4 linked regions of the Homo sapiens genome follow. The protein of the gene in region 4 purifies or fractionates together with the protein of the main gene of each other region. This does not show direct contact. Each region holds a gene or a part of one and is shown on either strand. Other genes may lie near its edges.

Region 1 (3,500 bases), on a different chromosome or scaffold from region 4:
GCACTCCTCTCGCAGCTGTACCACTCGCCAGCGCGACGGTTCGGAGGCCCCGTTCACCACCAGGCGCAGAGATTCAGGTGGGTCGGGAGGGTGCGCGCTCCTGAAAGCCATACTTAGCCCCGCTGGCAGGCGACGGCACAGCCACAGAATAGAAACCACGGGGATGATAGACTGATCCCGTCAGAGAGCGCGTTTCAGAATCATTCTGCAGCTCCACACCACAACCTCCATCAGAAAGGTGTCTGTAGGAAAGCCGTTTACTTCCGATTGGGCGTTGTCTTTCATGGGAATCAAAACAGTGACTCCAGGCTGGACACAGTGACTTATCCCTGTAATCCTAGCACCTTGGGTGGCTGAGAGAGGAAGATCGATTGAGCCCAGGAGTTCAAGACCAACCTGGGCAATATTGCGAGACCCCATCTCTACAAAAAATACAAAGCTGGCCAGGCATGGCGGTGCGCTCCTGTAGTTGCAGCAACTCAGGAAGCTGAGGTGGGAGGATTGCTTGAGCCCAGGAGGTTGAGGCTGCAGTGAGTTGTGATCATACCACTGCACTCCAGCCTGGGCCACAGGGCCAGAACCTGTCTTTTTTTGTTTTTATTAAAAAAAAAAAAAAGACAGCACCAGTCCCCACCAGTTGCTGTGAGCGTGAGCACTTAGAGCTTCAGCACGCAGTTCCTAGTAACAGCAGAACGGAGCCGCGAGCTTTAAAGATGGTTTCATGCCCAGTGTGGGGGAGCACACACCTGTAATCTCAGCTCTCAGGAGGCCGAGTTAGGAGGATTACTTGAAGCCCCGAGTTTGAGCAGCCTGGGCAACAAAGTGAGACCCCTGTTCCTACAAAAAGTAATGAAAAAAACTGGGCATGGTGATGCTGGCCTTTAGTCCCAGCTACTCAGGAGGCCATGGTGGGAGGATCGCTTGAACCCAGGAGGTGGAGGCTGCAGTGAACTATGATTGCACCACTGCACTGCAGCCTGGGTGATAGAGTGAGACCCTTTCTCTAAAAAATAAATGAATAATGAACGTCTCATATCTGTGGGAGAAAAGATGCTGCCTTAGGTATACTCGGGTGAGAGTAGATCTTCCAGCATTCTTAGACATTTGATCAGCAGCCCTAAGGCAAACCTTTTTCAAACACCTGCCTCGTGGAGTCATTTGTATTGGTGAATGTTGTATGTATGCATTCTGTTTATAAGCCCTGTCCTAGAGGGGAGGAGTTTTCCCGGATTCCTTAGTCTTTCCATCCTGAAAATGGTTCTGGCTGCCAGGATGAAGTGGGATAGAGGCGATGAGAGTCAGGGCCTTGGACTCCAGGATGTGGTGTGCTGTCGCCTCAGAAACAGCAGAGGTCTCAGTGTCAGGGCTGTTTTGTTTTTGTCAAAACCTCAAGGAGTGGCATCGAGGGCTTATCTCAGGTATGACAAGGATAGATTTCCCTTTTTTTTTTAATTTTTAATGTTTTTATTTTTTGTTGAGATGGGGTCTCACTGTGTTGCCCAGGCTGGTCTTAAACTCCTAGCCTCAAGTGATCCTCCTACCTCAGCCTCCCAACGTACTGGGATTATAGGCGTGAGCCCGGCCCCATCGTTGTTTTAACAGTGAAGCTGGGTGGGCGCTGCCCAGTGCCACACATGCTGCTGTGAGAGGTGTTATTCTCATGGCTGAGTTACCCAGCATTCTCAGCCTGGCTCAAATTCCAAAGCTGGCCTGCCTTCCTTGAGGTTTCTGGCTTGAAGACAAGGCTGGGGAAGCTTCTCTGGACGGAATGGAGCTGAATTTTAAAATCCAGCTCTAGAAATCCCATCATACAGTCGGTCCTGCTCTTGATGGGGCGGGCTATATGGGCGGTGGGGTTGGGTGAACTGCTCCTTAGCCTGGAAGGAAAACAGGGAAGGTTGGAGGAGACATGGGACTCTGGTCCCAGTAATGAGGACAAGAAAAGAAAGGGGAAACCGGAGAAGTGGACATTTCTGGTCGAGCAGGAAAAGTGAGTGGCAGGGCAACCACTAAGACAAAGTGATGGAAGGAAGTGGGGAGGGCGGGAGAGTCTGGAGGGAAAGATTCGCTCAGGAGGCTGAGAGAAGAGGAGGAAGAAAGACCCAGACTGCAGTGAGTTTGCAGTCAGTCCCTATCACGTCCAGAAAAGCCCAGAGATAAGGGATGGAAAAGAATTGGGTTGGAGGAAGAGAGGAGAAGATTTATGACTGTCAAGACCAGAGAAATCAGCAGGAGAAAAACTACCAACAAGAGTAATTCCTAAGAAGGCCGGGCGCATTGACTCACGCCTGTAATCCCAACGCTTTGGGAGGCCAAAGCAGGAGGATCACTTGAGCCCAGGAATTTGAGACCAGCCTGGACAACATAGACCCTTTCTTCTTAGTCTTTCCATCCTGAAAATGGTTTTACAAAAAATGTAAAAATTAGCCAGCATGGTGGCACACACCTGTGGTCCAGCTGCTCAGGAGGCAGGAGGATCACTTGAGCCTAAGAGTTTGAGACCATACTGGACAACATAGTGAGACCCTCTCTCAAAAATAAAGAAAATCACCGTTGGGCTAGTGAGCTGCCCCATGGCAGCTGGTGTCCTCTCGTGTCTGTCGAGAGGGTGAATCTGTTTAACAGCGCTTGAAGGCACTCGTTTACCCCGGCTGGGGCCTGCAGGGCTGCGCTTGGCTGATAGGGCCATAGCCTGAAGCCCAGTTTTATTTTGGAGCAGGTAATGCTTCTCTGCATGCATCACGCAGCTTCACAGATGCCGGCTTCACAAATGTATGCTACTCAGATATTCCCAAACTGACCCTCAGACCTTTACTTTTTTAATGTGAGAAAGTTCCAGAGGGAAACATAGCTTTAGGAACTGTTTTGTCATATACCTTAATCCTTATTACAGCATCTGTACATTTTCAGAAGGCTTTATTTTATTTTAGTTTAGTTTAGTTTTTGTTTTCTGAGGTTTTTGTTTTTTTCCTAGAGATGGGGTCTCTCTGTGTTGCCCAGGCTGGTCTCAAACTCCTGGCCTCAAGTGATCCTCCCACCTTGGCCTCTCAAAGTCCTGGGATTCCGTGCTTGAGCCACCATGCCTGGCCCAGAAAGGCTTATTTTTTATGTAAATAAAAGTATCACTGTGGAAAGAGCCCCACGTGTGTGGTCAAGTTTGGTGAGCCTGCCGTTGCTGGTGTCCCAGGGCCCTTCCCTGTCCCTTGAGTTCTCAGTCCTCAGTGGTTTGGCCCCTGACCCTCAGGGGATGTTGAGCTCTAGCCACAGAGGGTTGGTTGCCTGGTGCTTGGGAAGGAATTCTTGTGCCCTACAAGTGGCCCTGGCAAAGGCGTGCTCTAACCAGAGACCACTGGGCTGTCAACGCTTGGGGGCGGGTCATGATAAGGGGAAGGTGCAAAATTTGGAAAAAGGAGTTCAGCCCCTGCACGTACCCCACAGTACGAGGAGAGTTTCCTCCAGGGAGAACTGAGGCTGTCAGAGGCCTGCAGAGCATTTCTACC
Region 2 (3,500 bases), on a different chromosome or scaffold from region 4:
TGTTTGTTTGTTTTAAGTATTCTTTGTAAGCTCTTGCTTACCACAGTTATGGGAACAAAGCACTAAGGACTGATTGGCAAAGTAGCAAAAGCAGTCAGCCTTATTGTAAAATCATGTCAACGTCTAGTTTTTAAACTTTTTTTTTTTTTTTTTTTTTGAGACAGAGTCTTGCTCTGTTGCCCATGCTGGAGTGCAATGGCGTGATCTCAGCTAACTGCAAGCTCCGCTTCCCGAGTTCATGCCATTCTCCTGCCTCAGCCTCCCAAGTAGCTGGGACTACAGGCACCCGCCACCATGCCCGGCTAATTTTTTTTGTACTTTTAGTAGGGACGGGGTTTCACCGTGTTAGCCAGGATGGTCTCGATCTCCTGACCTTGTGATCCGCCCACCTCAGCCTCCCAAAGTGCTGGGATTACAGGCGTGAGCCACCACACCCAGCCTAATTTTTATACTTTTATAGCTGCTGTCAGCATATTCCTTATGCTAATCACAAATAAAACTTGGACCCTTTATTTGTATTTGATATTCCTTATTATGGAAATATAGTTGGGAATTAGTGCCATATACAGATGCTATAGAAACACACTACAATGTAAGCCAAAAATAAATGTTTATAGAATGTACTGATAAACAAAGCTGCTAAAAAGATAAGGAAATACGGTCCCTCCAAATAGTGTTACATACTGTGTTTGCCTCATATTAGAGAGGTACTTTACAAAACTTTATAGTTTTACAATATATCTGTATTTATGAACCTTATAGGAATCTCATCACAATCCCATAATGTAGACTAGGCAAGAATTATTAACACTTTACTCACTGCGAAATCTCAACTTCAGAATGAGTGTCTGACTTGCTTTAATATATGATGAATAAGTGGTAGAGCCCAGAATAAAAATATGGGTTTCCCAATTCCTGGTGATTCTACTATTTTTAACATATACATACTTACACTTCCTCAAACAGAGTTGTAGCTCAGCCCTCTTTATATCTAGTGTAATGACAAAATGAGTACCATCATTATGCCCAAGTGTTACCTACCCCCACTGACCACTGATGACCACGTTCCCCCCGAGGGACTGGTCCTTGCTACTGGAGGAGTAGCTGCTTCACTGGGTGGGTTGTGGGATACAAATTCTAGGCCACTGGATATGGAACCCCTCCCAGCAGAAACTCTGTGATTTCGAGGATGTCGCTGGGCCTTTGGGGACATCCTTGGAGGCCCTAAGGAAGAAACAGTGAACATCACATAAATTCCATGATATTCATCAGTACTACTTTTCTGCTAAATACACCCATTCACACACACATGCACACACACTCACTCACTCTACAGTTTTTCCTTGGTTAAAAATAGAAAAAAAAAAAACACCATACATATTTTTTTGGCCATACTAATTCTTTCAGAATTATTTTGTGGAATGCCACAAAGTTTTATAAATAAATTTTATTATTTCCCTTTATTTTTAAAGAAAGGGAGGGATGAAGTTGGTGGTAAGAAATCAACAATAAGATGTCAACTCTTAAAAGAACTGTAGCAATCTGTTTCAACTATGTCTTATTTGTAAAGAAATATGTTACTAGAAATTATGACTACATGATAAAATATTTTTAACTTTCCATATATTTTACCTTTCCCTGACCCGAATTTTCTACATTACTTCTAAAATTAGAAAAAAAAAATTTAAACAGAAGACTATTAATCCCTATACACCCCGATACCACTAAAACATATGTACATACCCTTCTTAAATTTCTCTAAAATTTTAGTTTATTTATCTCTTCTATCATGATCATCAATTTTAAAACTCGGCTTAAAACAGTAAGCAGTAACCTGTAAGCAGTTTCTTAGGCTTAGCAGGCTGTGAGCTGAAAATTCTATTAAAGGGATGACTTGTATTAGTCTATTAATAGATGACCAAAATAACTGACATTTGGGGGAGAAATCAGCACTATATGAATTGTCAAAATTCTACATTATTGATTCTGCCATGCCACTAGTGACTACTCTTTCTAAATCAGTCTACTGTGCATTAGACCAATCTATCAGGTAAAAGAGTGGACAGAATGGCCCTCATCAGAGAAGCCTACTGGTGTTAACACCAAGCGAAAACTTCCCTAATGTCAAAGCCAAATCTCCTCACTCTCTCACCCGGCTGCCAAACTCTTTAGAACTTCAAATTAATATATGTTGCCAATAGAATTATTATTTTATTTTTATTTTTATAAGACAGAGTCTGTCTCTGTCGCCCAGGCTGGAGTGCAGTGGTACGATCTCAACTCACTGCAACCTCTGCCTCCCAGGTTCAAGTGATTCTCCTGCCTCAGCCTCCCAAGTAGCTGGGTATTTTTAGTAGAGACGAGGTTTCACCATGTTGGCCAGGCTGGTCTCAAACTCCTGACCTCAAGTGATCCACCTGCCTCAGCCTCCCAAAGTGCTGAGATTACAGGCGTTAGCCACCATGCCTGGCTTCCAACAGGAATTTAAACACGAACATGATCTTTAGAAGAATGCTAATGTTATACACTATAATTTTCAAATGGAAATATTCAACATCTCTGAATGACACAGAAAGTATATTTCTGTGTGAAGTTAATACATGAGCAGTCCTTAAATCTTAATGTAATAAAGATGTTCACAGTCATTAATGATCATGTTTTATTTAATATATTCTCATTAAATAAACATCGCTTACTCAAATGATGGACTACAAGAAAAATATCAACAGAATTTTGCATTTAGTGACCACTATTAAGGCCCTTTTGAGCAAAGAAGTCACCTTGAAAATCAGTGGAACTTGCTCTTCAAGGTTAGATGCTTCAGTCAAAGTCATATGACCTGCCTGCTTAGATGGTAACAATTTATTTAAAAGTAGCCAATACAGTTTTCTCCAGGGAAGCAGGAGAAACACATTTTGTGCGGAAAACTTTATTAGTCCCAACATAAGCAATATTAACTAATTTTAATGAACAAATCAGATTAAAATTTTAACACAAATATTCAGAACTAGTATCAAAAGGACATTATGATTCAGAAAACAGGTTTTTAATATATGGGTGGCATTTAAATTAGAATGTTACCTTTCTACAACATATCCCTGTATTTGATATGTGGCAATGATGGATTTAGCGCCAAATACTGAATAAGAATTACAAGATTTTATTCTTATTTTTGACGAGGAAAGAAATAGCTAAATATTCAAATTCATATGTCGTTTTTATCAATTTTATCTCAGATCAAGGACTTCTTCCAGATTAAAGCAGCCTTTCACTATGTAAGATTGCAAAGCTAACTTTAAAAAAATTACTCAGTTAAATTTAGAATTCTTCTGGCATTCTAAAAATCAACTACTTTAATCTAAGGGCAGACACGCAAAGTCAGCTACATGGGCTGTCGCTCTCAAAAAAGACCCAGAAAACACCATCCCTGCTTATGGCCAATAGGAAGGTTCACTAGGACCTTGGCCAAAGAGCTGTAAAATGAACCTAAGTTCAAGACT
Region 3 (3,500 bases), on a different chromosome or scaffold from region 4:
CAGGGATATTAATTGGGGAATCCATGGATGGACTCCAGGGATTTACAAACCTTCTGAGATTATATGCAAATTTCTTAGATATGTTGATTTTTCTGAGGTGGGGAACAGGTTTTACCAACTTCTTAGAGGTATACAAGATGATAAAAATGTGAGGAATCACTGGTTTTATAAGTACACAATCCAGAATACTCATTAAATATGGGTATTATAGCATGTAGAATCTAGTCAAAATCCTACTTACTTTTTGAAAGTCTAAATTCTTACTCTCAACCAACAAGTGAGCATCCTAAAATTGAAATTTAAATTAGCCCAGAATTAGAAAACACACGTAAAAATACATCAGCAAACATCAAAAGCAAATTTGTAAGTCTCACCTCATATTACTACTTTTCATCTTTCCAAAATTTTAGACATTCTCTTCATACTTTATTAATCAATGTAATTAACGTTATAAATATATTTATGAATATATAAATAGTATTTATGAACAATCAATGAAAAGCTTCGTTTTAATGGCTGTCATTGAAACAAATTTTTTTTCTGACCAAAAGCATCATATTTAAATAAAATTTTAACATGCTGTTATATGTAAGTTAAGCATTTTATCCAGTTGATTGCTATTTCACACACACCTTAATCAATTCAGGAACATGGTAGCTTTCCAGGAGATTACGAATGCCTCTGTAGATATTTTCAGGAATTTTTACATTCTGTGAGAAGGGAAGGGAGGGGGGAAAAAACCTGAGTTTTAGACAACCAAACTGAAATTTGTCTAACAGAAATTATCTCAGACATAATTTAAGTCTCCAACTCTTGCATGTCATTGAGAAGTGGTCTGGTTGTACTTAAAAGCAGCAATTTCAAATCTAATAGATACATGTCAGGCAGGACAGGCATTATATAGCAAAAAACGAAATGGTACCATCTTCTCCAGCTGATGGAAGTATTGTCTCAAATGCTCCTCCTTGGCCTGTACCTCTGAGTCACTCATGCTGTCAATCAAGTTATAAAGAAAATAGCCAACAGCTTCTGTGGAAAAAAACAAGAGAAAGCATTCCACTAAAATTACCGAGACTGTCATGTTATCAAGATTAATTTATAAGAAATCATTTTGGTGTGAGATGTCACCCTGATGAGAGGCTCTGAAATGGCAACAATGATCACTGAGGCATAGAGATTATGTGGTTTGGGAGCACATATCTAACTGGTGAGTGAAAGGAATATTAATTATTTTCAGACCGAGTGACAGCTTTTCAGTACTGAATCTTACTTCAATCTATTTTTTTTCCACCACTCTGTGACAGAAGTGGTCCTGCCCAAGGCCTTACCCCTTTCCTGTCCAAATCACACGTAATAAGAATAAATAAATGTCTTGTACACATTTCTATACTGTTTTTTTTTTGTGGACAATATTTAGGGAAGCACATAAAATTAGAAAGGATTGTTAAATGTTGAGTAAAGAAAGTTAAACAATTTTAATAAGCAGATACAGTAATCCTGTGGAGAGCTGCCTATTAGCCAATGAAAAACCAAGATTAACAAAGATGTTTTGTAACAACAGTAATTTTCCTTTGCATTCAAGCATAAAATGTATAGGGCCATGTTACAGTAATACCTAGGATAGAAATGTAAACTTTCAAGAGGGGTACCATCTTACAGAAAACTATATAGTCTAGCTTCATTATATGAAAAATGAAAATCATTAAATGTCAAAACAATGTATTTGGGGCAATAAATTACATTTAAGCGGAAATCCACAAGAACCTTCGCTACATTTTATGTTTAAAATTAACTACACCTGCAAAACATTAAAAGCACATAAATACTAAGAATCACTGATTTTTAAGCCTATTTCCATAGATGTTAGAAGAAACATTTCCCCAATATCTGAAAAGAAAAAGCCTCCCAACCCTGTCTTTAGAAAAAATAATTGTAACAAAATCAAACACTTTAGATCTCAAAATGTTGTAATCAATATAAAGATTTATAACCAAATGTTTTCAAATTCCACTTTAAAAAATAAAGTATTTACTGCTGTAATCCTCCTAACCCATCATTACACAGAAAAATGGATTTGTGGATAAGTTACAATCATCGAAATTGAAACGCTACCCGTCGGTCCTCGAGGCTCCTGGCAATAACGTCCATCCTTGTACAACAATTCTGTTATCTGGTAAGACAGAAAATTCGTGCATTGCAGCAAGAGAAGCAAACAAGAACAAACACAATCTGAAATTGAATTCTTGAAATAATAAAACCTCTCCCCAGTAAGGTACTATTCTATTTCACAGTAATTCAAAACCACCCCCACCCGCCAAGGAGATTGTTTTGTTTTTAAATAATAGGTTTGTCTTTTAAAAACAAAAACAAATCCATGTTGAAGGAAAACTGCAATGTTTTGTGAAATGTCACACAGAAAGACTCTAAACTGATTTATAAATTGATATATAAACATCACTCTGAATGAACTGTTATAAATAGAAAAGAGCTTATAGGAATTATTGACCAATATTATTCCTCATTATATTGCTTTTGGTCTTGTTGACACTGAACTGGTTTCCTCATTTTATATTAAGTTTTACTGAAATATAAAGTAAAATATCCTGAACTGCTAAATAACTTACATTTTTTAGATATTTAATAACAACTTCCATTCATCTTAATGAGACTAAAACAAAAGGGGTCTAAAGATTAAAGTGTCTATTCTCATGGATTCTTTTTTTTTTAATTTCCAACTTTTATTTTAAGTTCAGGGGTACATGTGCAGGATGTGCAGGTTTGTTACATCGGTAAACGTGTGCCATGGTGGTCGGCTGCACAGATCATCCCATCACCCAGGTATTAAGCCCAGCATCCATTAGCTATTCTTCCTGATCCTCTCCCTCCTCCCATTGGATTCTTATCAATTGGATTCACAAACACTAAAAGACACACATAACTATTATTTTTCAACATTAACTCTGCCAGCAAAATTTTAGTAGAAAACCAAATATAGGTTTCATGATAAAAATTATTACATAACCTATGGTATTGGCTTGTAACGTTAAAAGCACCTTATGATTTGCAATATTAGAGGGACTTACCTCGCTCCAAAGATTTATATTCATAGACCTGCAGAGGGCAGCAAAGGATCGAAAATAAACCCAGGTTTATTTTCAAGTATATGCATACTTGTAATATGTACAGATCAAAGTATTAAAATTAATAAGTAAATAAATGTTTGCTGTATCAGGATGAATTTTCAGGACAAAGGTAATTTAGAAAGGCTGACACTCACCCACCTCAAATATTCAAAATAGGCCAGGCCTGGTGGCTCACATCTGCAATCCCAGCACTTTGGGAGGCCAAGGCAGGTGGATCACCTGAGGTCAGGAGTTTGAGACCAGCCTGGCCAACATGGTGAAATCCCGTCTCCACTAGAAGTAGAAAAATTAGCCGGGAGTGTTGGTGTATGCCTGTAATCCAGGCTACTCGGGAGGCTGAGGCAGGAGAATTGCCTG
Region 4 (3,500 bases):
GCCCAGTTTATAGACTATTGCCAGCAGTAGTTCAGGTTTTAAAAAAATGATGAGGGATTAATCTAGGGGCATGAAGGAGAAAGGATAGATTTTTTATTTATGTCTATATATAAATAGACATTTATATTTACAAAGGTTGACTTAGCAGGCCTTAGTGATTGCTTAGCAAGATTAGGGAAAAGAAAGAATTTGAGAATAAGTGGGATTCTGACATGTGTGACTCATTAGAATGTGATGCCATGAATAGAGATCATGAAGAGGATGCGAGGGACACATGTTAGACTTCAGGAATAGAAAAAGGAGGTTGAGAAGAAGCCATTAGAAAAGTCAGAGGACAATAAGAATCTAATCATGTTGTAAAAGCTACCTAAGGTAGGAGAAGAAAGTTTGAAGGAGGACTAAACACTGTCAAGTTCTCTGGGAGGTCATGTAAAATAAGGTTTAGGGATATATTCTTTACATATAAAGGATTTAATCAGCATTTCTATATTAGGCTTGTTATTAGGCATTGCTTTTGGGCCTTTCTCTTTCACAGTCATTTTCTCTTAATTATAGTTTGTACATTAGAACAGTTTTTTTACTTCAGTACAGCCTCAATGTAAGCATCATCCATTTGTGATATTTGGATCCCTTCTTCCCATAGGTTGGGATGAGGTTTTATGTACCTTGTAATTCATAATAATAGATAAGGTTAGATAAGTCTAACCTTATTTTTTATTCTTAATATTCATAGTATAAAAGTGATATGAAAGATGCATTCACAACTTTAGTAACAGTGGAAAACAGCCTGTCATAGTGTAAATCTGTTTTATAGTATGACATAACTTGTCATAGTATAAAAAGGATGGGGTTTATCTTCATAATTCCTAATCTTTATTTTAGTTGTATTGCCTTGGGCAATGCATATCTTCTTGAGTTTCAATATTTTTATCTATAAAATGGGTAGATAATATCACCCTCACTGGACTAAAAGAGATGATGTAAATAAAGTACCTAGTAATACCTAGGTACATAGTAAACATCTAAGTGGAATTTAATCATAACCATTGATAATGATACATTCCCTGCCTTTTCTCAAAATAGCCTACGTATGTTGTAACCACACTCAGGCCTAACTTTTGATATAGCTTTTTCTTAATAGCTTCAAGTAGCTAGCAAAATCTTTTTCTCAATTACTTGTTATATGGCTTTTTGCTTCCACTAGCAACAGAAATTTCCATTAGAAATTTTACCTATCCATGTGTTCTGGCCATCTGGACCAGCACAAGTGGGATGAGCAAACTAGGCCAGGTGCTGAAGTTGCTACCTGTTCATTTGGCAGTTCCTCTCAGAGTAGTCTTTACTCTTCCAATTCCATATGATCATATCCTTTGGAAGTGGCAAAGGCTAAAGTAATTGGAAGGAAGCCATCAAGGAAAACTCATACATGAGAACACATGTGTAAAGTAGTTCTCTTACAATCATTTGGAAATTGGCAGCTTTGTTCATTTCTCCCTCTTTAGTATTCCTGTATATTCTACTTTTGTGAATATTTGGTTGTTTTTAGTAATGTTTCATTTCTGATTACTATTTTCTTGTGTTTTGATGTAATTTTGTCTAGAAAACCACTCTATAATACCTATAAGGTAATCCTAAAGAAATATTCTTTAAGTGTTTCTTGTAATTGCCACTTTTTTCCTGTCAAGTACTTTCAGAGAAACTGGATGAATCTATATCTGCTTACGTTTTGCTGGCATTGTATGAAGGATACCTGTACATATGATTTAGTTAGGTTTGACAATTTCATGAAAATAGTGGGTTAAATGTATTCTCTGTTAATTCACACTATTTTAAATTTATAGCATTCTTTTAAAAGATTCTATACTTAATATAAAAATAATTATAGATTGGTTTTTTCTTCTGCTGAGGTCTTGATTTGCAACATGTTTTTCAAATTGTTAAAACTGAGCTTTTTCTTACCTAGGCTAATTGTGTAGGCGTAGTTGTCTCATCATTGAGTGGAGATGGAAGTATGCCAGTAATTTGTGTCATTTGGAAAGTGTTGGCTTGAGTTAAAGTTAGTGTCCTATAAATGTCATATATAGGTGAAGGATACTCAGTGTTGTGGAATAGCTCAGGAACAAAGGTACATCAGATGTGGTCTTTGGCTAGGTTTCTGTAGCTACCTTTTGATTTTGCAGAAAAAGCCACCACGTGAGAATGGCCATAAGCAGATAAGTAGCAGTTCAACTGGATGTCTCTCTTCTCCAAATGCTACAGTACAAAGCCCTAAGCATGAGTGGAAAATCGTTGCTTCAGAAAAGACTTCAAGTAAGTATATGACACTTGCCAGATTGTTTTCAGCTTACCTATTTTTAAGAAGGAGTGTTGCCAATTTAATACCTCTTAAATTGACTACTCGAGGAAAAAACTCAGAAGCAATTAAATTTGGAAAACGAGAGCAGATTGTTCCAGTCTGGGATGTGGAGACTGGAGTCCAATTCAGGATCATATACACAAACCAAAAGTAATAATTACATCTTAAACATGGAACTCTTGTGCTTACAGATAACACTTACTTGTGCCTGGCTGTGCTGGATGGTATATTCTGTGTCATTTTTCTTCATGGGAGAAACAGCCCACAGAGCTCACCAACAAGTACTCCAAAACTAAGTAAGAGTTTAAGCTTTGAGATGCAACAAGATGAGCTAATCGAAAAGCCCATGTCTCCTATGCAGTACGCACGATCTGGTCTGGGAACAGCAGAGATGAATGGCAAACTCATAGCTGCAGGTAAGAACAGAAGCATTCAACTGGCTAAGCATGTAGATGGGCATTTTTGTGACATGCAAACTTTCAAAGAGAGGGTTTAATATGCCATCTTTCACGGCAATCCAATAAGATAGGGAAATAACAATACTATTGAATATGGCTAACCTTCAGTTCAATGTCTGTATCTAATTTTTAAAAAAATTATGTCATGGCTAAATTTTTCTAATATTCAAGCCAAGACTAAGCAGTTTATTTGTACTGATAATGCGATTTTTCAGCTATTACAAGCACTTAGTTAAAAGATCAACTAAGGCATCCTTAAAAAGTTTTAATACTTTTTCTCATTGTGCAGATTTCTTAAACTTACAGGACTGGAAACCGTGGTCCAGTTTAATATTTTAAACATAAATCTTTATGGTTTTATTTTTTACCAGGTGGCTATAACAGAGAGGAATGTCTTCGAACAGTCGAATGCTATAATCCACATACAGATCACTGGTCCTTTCTTGCTCCCATGAGAACACCAAGAGCCCGATTTCAAATGGCTGTACTCATGGTAAGCGCATTATGTTGCAGGAGCAACCCCTATTTAGCTTTTTCCTCGTAACTTCAGGATGTTAGAAATTCTCATCTCTCACTTTTGGCATAGGGCCAGCTCTATGTGGTAGGTGGATCAAATGGCCACTCAGATGACCTGAGTTGTGGAGAGATGTATGATTCAAACATAGATGACTGGATTCCTGTTCCAG

Evidence for each region. Proteins that work in one complex are often made in the same cells at the same time.
Region 1: the proteins of IVNS1ABP (region 4) and ELAVL1 purify together in Homo sapiens (affinity purification with mass spectrometry, with the first as the bait; one large-scale study listed by BioGRID). This does not show direct contact.
Region 2: the proteins of IVNS1ABP (region 4) and ATXN2 purify together in Homo sapiens (affinity purification with western blotting, with the first as the bait; one study listed by BioGRID). This does not show direct contact.
Region 3: the proteins of IVNS1ABP (region 4) and LRPPRC purify together in Homo sapiens (affinity purification with mass spectrometry, with the first as the bait; one large-scale study listed by BioGRID). This does not show direct contact.

What each region holds. Positions count from the first base shown.
Region 1 is NC_000019.10:7,964,142-7,967,641, reverse strand, and holds part of ELAVL1 (ELAV-like protein 1), read left to right. Parts: coding exon 1-77; intron 78-3,500. UniProt on the Homo sapiens protein: RNA-binding protein that binds to the 3'-UTR region of mRNAs and increases their stability.
Region 2 is NC_000012.12:111,512,316-111,515,815, forward strand, and holds part of ATXN2 (ataxin-2), read right to left. Parts: intron 1,225-3,500; coding exon 1,042-1,224; intron 1-1,041. UniProt on the Homo sapiens protein: Involved in EGFR trafficking, acting as negative regulator of endocytic EGFR internalization at the plasma membrane.
Region 3 is NC_000002.12:43,947,490-43,950,989, forward strand, and holds part of LRPPRC (leucine-rich PPR motif-containing protein, mitochondrial precursor), read right to left. Parts: intron 3,112-3,500; coding exon 3,084-3,111; intron 2,171-3,083; coding exon 2,113-2,170; intron 1,030-2,112; coding exon 923-1,029; intron 711-922; coding exon 633-710; intron 287-632; coding exon 242-286; intron 1-241. UniProt on the Homo sapiens protein: May play a role in RNA metabolism in both nuclei and mitochondria. In the nucleus binds to HNRPA1-associated poly(A) mRNAs and is part of nmRNP complexes at late stages of mRNA maturation which are possibly associated with nuclear mRNA export.
Region 4 is NC_000001.11:185,300,244-185,303,743, reverse strand, and holds part of IVNS1ABP (influenza virus NS1A-binding protein), read left to right. Parts: intron 1-2,180; coding exon 2,181-2,310; intron 2,311-2,547; coding exon 2,548-2,772; intron 2,773-3,185; coding exon 3,186-3,307; intron 3,308-3,400; coding exon 3,401-3,500. UniProt on the Homo sapiens protein: Involved in many cell functions, including pre-mRNA splicing, the aryl hydrocarbon receptor (AHR) pathway, F-actin organization and protein ubiquitination.